2 separate regions of the Homo sapiens genome follow, and region 2 is linked to region 1. The links come from fine-mapping of genetic effects on gene expression. A gene starts in region 1. The other region holds a variant in brackets. All regions are shown on one strand. Distances are between the middles of the regions. Region 1 holds the start of DESI1 (desumoylating isopeptidase 1). Region 2 overlaps MEI1 (meiotic double-stranded break formation protein 1).

Region 1 (2,845 bases):
AATACCTATGGTCATGGCCATTTATCAGGGACCAAAAGATGTCAAACTACCAGTGTCCAAAAAAAACTTAGGGCACACTAGAGTAAGATCTGCATATAAGAGCCTAGGGTAGCTCTGCGAAGTTCAAAGGAAGAAAAGAATTTCAGAATTATCTGGGAGGAGAAGGGCAGGCCATCAAACAGCAAAGTCCATCCAGCAGAGATAGGCAGGGAAGGTCTTTCTTCCACACACCGAATGGCACTACATGCTGAAGTCACTTACCACTTGCTTCAAGGTTCTCTTCTTGTTCTTCCTCTGCTTCTTCATCGCCCTCGGTTTTGTAATATGACTCCCACCCTGACATGTTGGCTACTGCTCACTAGGCGAAAGACGTTAACGTCAGTAACAGGCAAATTTAAATCGAAAAAATACCGACCTCTAGGTTCTTGTGAGATCTGTTCTAAAAGCTTGGTTAGTAGTGAGGAATGTGGACGGTAAATCCTGCTGCCTCGAAAGCTCGGCAGTCGGACTGCATGTAAATGCGCATGGGGGCCATCCCAGTAGCTGCCTCATCTCAGCTATCCCTCACGTTTCAGGGCCGGCGGCGGCCCGCGGAAGCCAGATCCCGGAGGTCCCGCCCCCGACGCCATTTAGACGGTGAGGGATTCCCGCTCCAGGATTCTATGCTGACTAACGGACCCCCTCGTCCTCAATACCGCCCAAAAACCTCCCCAAATTCCTCAATCACGCCCAATGAGATCTCAAACGCAGACAGGCCTCAAGCGCAGGCGGGCCGCAAGCGCAGGCGGGCCTCAAACGCAGGCGGGCCTCAAACGCGAGGTGCCGCCTCCTTCCCGAGGAAGGAGCGTGGTCTCGAGTCTGTCGCTGCTCCTCGGATTCGCACACTTAAGGCTAACGCTAACCCTCTAGCAAGGCTATGGGGGCGCGCGAGACCGACCGAGCGAAGCGGGACGAGGCCAGGCCTAGCTGGCGAACAACACAAATGGATAACGGCCCGCTTACCTTTGGCGCAGGGAAGCGACCAACTTGGACAGAAGACGACAATCCACGCATGCGCGGGCCCTGTACTCGGTCCCAATCAACGCCCTCTACGTCATCACGCATGTGCGCACTATATCGCGTCAGGCTGGCACGCACACTCCCCAACCAGCTTCTACCTATGTCCCTGACGAAAGCCAACCCATCAGCGAGAGCCCCGCCCCCTTCGGCAAAGCCCCGCCCCTTCCTACGTCAGGACTGTAAGCACATGCGCAAAAGTGCATCCCTGCCCCCGCCCCCTCTTCCGTGTGGGCCCTCCCTGTCCCCTCTCTGTCACCTCACAGTAGTCGTTGCCGGTAGCGGGTGTGGGGGCGCGAGCAGCGCAGGGCGGCCTCTCCCCCACCCCTCAGCCCGGGCCCGGGCTCGGTCCCCCCCTCTCCCTCCGCTTCGCACTCCCGTCGGGTACGGGAAGGTCCAAGCCGCTGCCGGGTGCCCGAGGGCCGTCGTGGCCGCCGTCGCCACGGGTCCCAATGGAGCCGCCGAATCTCTATCCGGTGAAGCTCTACGTGTACGACCTGTCCAAAGGCCTGGCCCGGCGGCTCAGCCCCATCATGCTGGGTGAGGGGGAAGGGGCCAGGTGGGCAGGAGGGCGGGAGCCAGGCCAGAGGGTGGCGGCTGGCCGAGGTGGGGAGACTTGGGCCACGACTCACGGGGAGACACATGGCCAGGAGGATGGAAGAAAAGCCGAGTGGAGAAGAGAGTGGTCTGAAGTTTGGGCCATCTGAGCCCCGCTTTAGCCTCGCAGATACCATCCTCACGTTTGAATTCAAGGGGAAGGGATGGAGGAGTCATGCCTCCACCTTGCAGGGGGCTTGGGCAGAAACCGAGCCCTCGAGAGCCCCTTCGACGAGGGTGTGGGGTAAACCAGCGCTGGATCCCGGCGGGTTCTCTGCCTCGCTCGGGTAGCCCAGTGCACTCCTGCCTCCTTGGCGCGGTGTAGGAAAGGTGAGGATGCCTGCCGCGCGGTGCCCCTCGTGGTGACAGAGACACTGCGGAGGTCGGGTGGCTCTCGGAGAACCTTGTCTCAGTGCCAAAAGGAAGCTCCCTTTGCAGTCCCAGGGATAGGTGGGATGGGGGAGATAGAGCTGCCTAGGGACCCAGCCATCGCCCCCAGGTAGGTCAAGTCAGGATAAGAGGAGCCCCGAACTCCAGAATTCACCAAGCAGTCTTCTCCCCACAGTTTCTAAGTTAATTGCTTTTGCTCAAATGGCAAGAAAGCAGTTTTGGGGGAAGTTTGGATGAGGCTGTGTGAATAAGGATTAGTAAAGAAAGTATTTCGGTTGTGCTCCATTAAACTACTTAACTGGCAGGAGAAAAACCAGCCCTCATTCAGTGACGATCACACCTTATTTCAACTTAAATACAGGAATGTCTTGTGTAACACAGGAATTGTCAGGTTTGTAATTTCGGGTAACAATGAGCAGGAAAGAATTCCAATTATTGAAAATTGAAGCTTTGACAGCATCCATTTGAATGGCTAGTTTTTCCTGGCTTCTGTGGAGACACTGGCGAATGATTTAGTTCATCTCTGTGAGACGAGGGGGCAGAGATCAAGTAAGGGAGGCTACTTTTGAGGGCATCCTTCAATGTCCTTGAGTTTCTAATATGTCGTAGTGAATTGAACTTAATCTCACAACCGTGGGTCCATGAGTTGTTTCTATATTTGGCTTCACATCAAAATCATCTAGGGTGCTTGTTAAAAATGCAGATACCCTCATTTCCAACATATATTGTAAATGAGATTAGAAAAAACAAGGTTAGAATAGCTCTTTAAATATGCAAATCAAAGGATATATATGTGCTTGCT
Region 2 (2,908 bases), 100 kb before region 1:
GCAGTGGCGCGGTCTTGGCTCACTGCAACCTCCGCCTCCCAGATTCAAGGCATTCTCCTGCCTCAGCATCCCGAGTAGCTGGGACTACAGGTGTGTGCCACCACGCCCAGCTAATGTTTGTATTTTTAGTAGAGATGGGGTTTCACTGTGCTGGCCAGGATGGTCTCAATCTCTTGACCTCATGATCCGCCAGCCTTGGCCTCCCAAAACGCTGGGATTACAGGCGTGAGCCACCACGCCCAACTTTTTTGTATTTTTTATAGAGACAGGGTTTTGCCATATTGCCCAAGCTGGTCTTGCACTCCTGGGCTCAAGCAATCCACCAACCTAGGCCTCCGAAAGTGCTGGGACTACAGACATGAGCCACCGCCCCCAGCCAGTATATTATTTTGCCCAGTAAGAAAACACTTGGAAATCTGAGATAGGAGTGGTAGATGAAGACAAGGCCCAAGAAGCACTTGGGTCCCCTTGTTATTGAACCTAGAGACCAGGAATCACAAGACAACTACCTTTTTGAGCACCAAAGGCAGTGAGGTATTTCCTGATGACCCTTCGATATTCTTAGCACTTTCTCCCAGTCCATCCTGGTTCATGATCATGGACACAAAGAGATCATACTTCAACAGCTGCCTCAGCAAACCTAGGAAACAAAGGGATTGGGAAGTAAGGCAAGAGGAACACAGGCACCAGAGTACTCCCAAGATAGCCCCTCAGACATCCCCAGAGAAACTTCTTCATCCCTCTACAAATATGAAGAATGGTTAGAATCCTTAAGCACCAATTTGCTTTTTGCACCCGACTCTCTTCCACACAGATCTAGTGAGAGCCCACTAAGTGCTAGGCCTAAGGGTCTAGGGATTCAAGAGTAAGCAAGATAAACATAGCCCGACTGCCTCACTCAACTATAAGTTTCATGAGGGCAGGAATAATGTGAGTTTTTTCAACATAACATCATCCATCACCTGGCACAGTTCCTGACACATAGCAGGAACTCAAAAAATATTTTTTGACTAACAAAGGGAGCATACACTCCTGTAGGAGAAACAAACACAAAAACAAGTAAGACAAGACCAGGCGTGGTGGCTCACACCTGTAATCCCAGCACTTTGGGAGGCCAAGGTGGGTGTATCACTTGAGGTCAGGAGTTCAAGACCAGCCTGGCCAACATGGTGAAACCCCCTCTCTAGTAAAAAAATACAAAAAGTAGCCTGGCATGGAGGCATGTGCCTGTAGTCCCAACTACTCAGGAGGTTGAGGCAGGAGAATCGCTTGAACCCAGCAGACACAGGTTGCAGTGAACTGAGATGGCGTCACTGTACTCCACCCTGGGTGACAGAGTGAAACTCCATCTCAAAAAAAAAAAACCAAGTCAGACAAATGACCCTTATAATTGTGATAAATGATGTAAATGAGAAATACCCAAATACATGAAAATGTATATGAGGATTTAACCCAGTGTGGGGGATCAGTAAAGCCTTCCATCAGCAAGTACCATTTAAGCTGAATCTGAAAAATAAGTAC[G/A]TAAAAGTAGGTGAAGTGGGGAGAAGTATTCCAGATACAGAGAACAACATTCTAGAAAGTGAAAGAAAGCCAGAATGGCTGGGGGAAAAAAAAGTCCAGAAATTACATTTGAGAAGTAGTCACAAAAGACCACATAAGCTATGTTAAGGATTCTGGTACTTATGCTGGGATTCATGGTAAGTCACCAAAGTGTTCCAAATAATACATACTTTAACAAACAAGTAAAGAAATGCATGTCAGAATATTAAATATTAAAATTAAATAATGTGGAAAAAAGCCCAGAGGACCGCAGGAAATCAAATGAATCATCTAATCTAGCCTGGGGGCCCAGGGAAGGCTTCTATAAGAAGATATTTGAACCAAATCTTGAAGGATGAGAAGTTGGATGTGAGCCAACTTCTGGGCAGAGGAATATATAAAGGCAGGAGAGTATGGTGTGTTCCTGGAGATGGATTTGGTTCAGTAAGGCTGAGTTAGGGTGGGGACAGATAGAGAAGTGAGAGATGAGGCTTGAGAGGTTAATAAGGATTAGACCATAAACAGCTTATGAGCATAGTGGGACCCCATCTCTACAAAAAAAAAAAAAAAAAAAAATTAAAATGCTGGCAAGGTGGCGTGCACCTGTAATACCAGCTACTTGGGAGATCAAGGTGAGAGGATCACTTGAGGCCAGGAGTTCGAGGCTGCAGTGAGCTATGAACATGCTACTGTACTTCAGCCTGGGCAATAGAACAGGTCCCATCTTTAAAAATAAGTAAATTAAATAAAATAAGAACTTATGAGGATCTTGGGTTGTAAAGTAAGTGAATAAGATGACATAAGACAGAATATAAGACCCTTGGTGCTTCAAGGGTCCAAAGGATGTGACTACATCCCTGGCTGAGGGGAGAGGGTGGGAAGGAAAGGCTCCAGAGAAGAGGTGACCTTTAAGTGTTGTCTGAAAGAAGGTTAGCACTCCCGTTGACCAGGATAAAAGAGGCCCTCGGGTCTGACAAACATGCATAGGGTTAATTTTTTTTATTATTTAAAAAAAAAAAAAAAGAGGCTGGCCGCGGTGGCTCACGCCTGTAATCCCAACACTTTGGGAGGCCGAGGCAGGCAGATCACGAGGTCAAGAGATTGACACCATCCTGGCCAACACGGTGAAACCCCGTCTCTACTAAAAATACAAAAATTAGTCGGGCATGGTAGCACGCGCCTGTAGTCCCAGCTACTCGGGAGGCTGTGGCAGGAGAATCACTTGAACCCGGGAGGCAGAGGTTGCAGTGAGCTGAGATCGTGCGACTGCACTCCAGCATGGTGAAAGAGCGAGACTCCATCTCAAAAAAAAAAAAAAAAAAAAGGGGTAGCATTTAAAAACGGGAATTCTGGCTGGGTGTGGTGGTTC

The links.
Region 2: its variant is fine-mapped to the expression of DESI1 in whole blood (INTERVAL, PIP above 0.99). The same link has a PIP of 0.9 or more in CD4 T cells and CD8 T cells.

What each region holds. Positions count from the first base shown.
Region 1 is chr22:41,619,503-41,622,347 of GRCh38, reverse strand. It overlaps DESI1 (desumoylating isopeptidase 1), which reads left to right and starts at 1,305. Exons shown (of 6, transcript NM_015704.3): 1 at 1,305-1,596. The coding sequence starts at 1,509. XRCC6 (X-ray repair cross complementing 6) reads right to left here and starts at 1,053. Exons shown (of 13, transcript NM_001469.5): 1 at 1,003-1,053; 2 at 262-358. The coding sequence starts at 343. RefSeq lists a silencer at 1,285-1,554 and an enhancer at 1,286-1,887.
Region 2 is chr22:41,721,675-41,724,582 of GRCh38, reverse strand. It overlaps MEI1 (meiotic double-stranded break formation protein 1), which reads right to left. Exons shown (of 31, transcript NM_152513.4): 7 at 510-640. It also overlaps the pseudogene RNU6ATAC22P. Among named protein-coding and RNA genes, the nearest start is that of MEI1, 24 kb to the right of the region's middle. The variant G/A (reference allele first, on the strand shown) is at 1,522.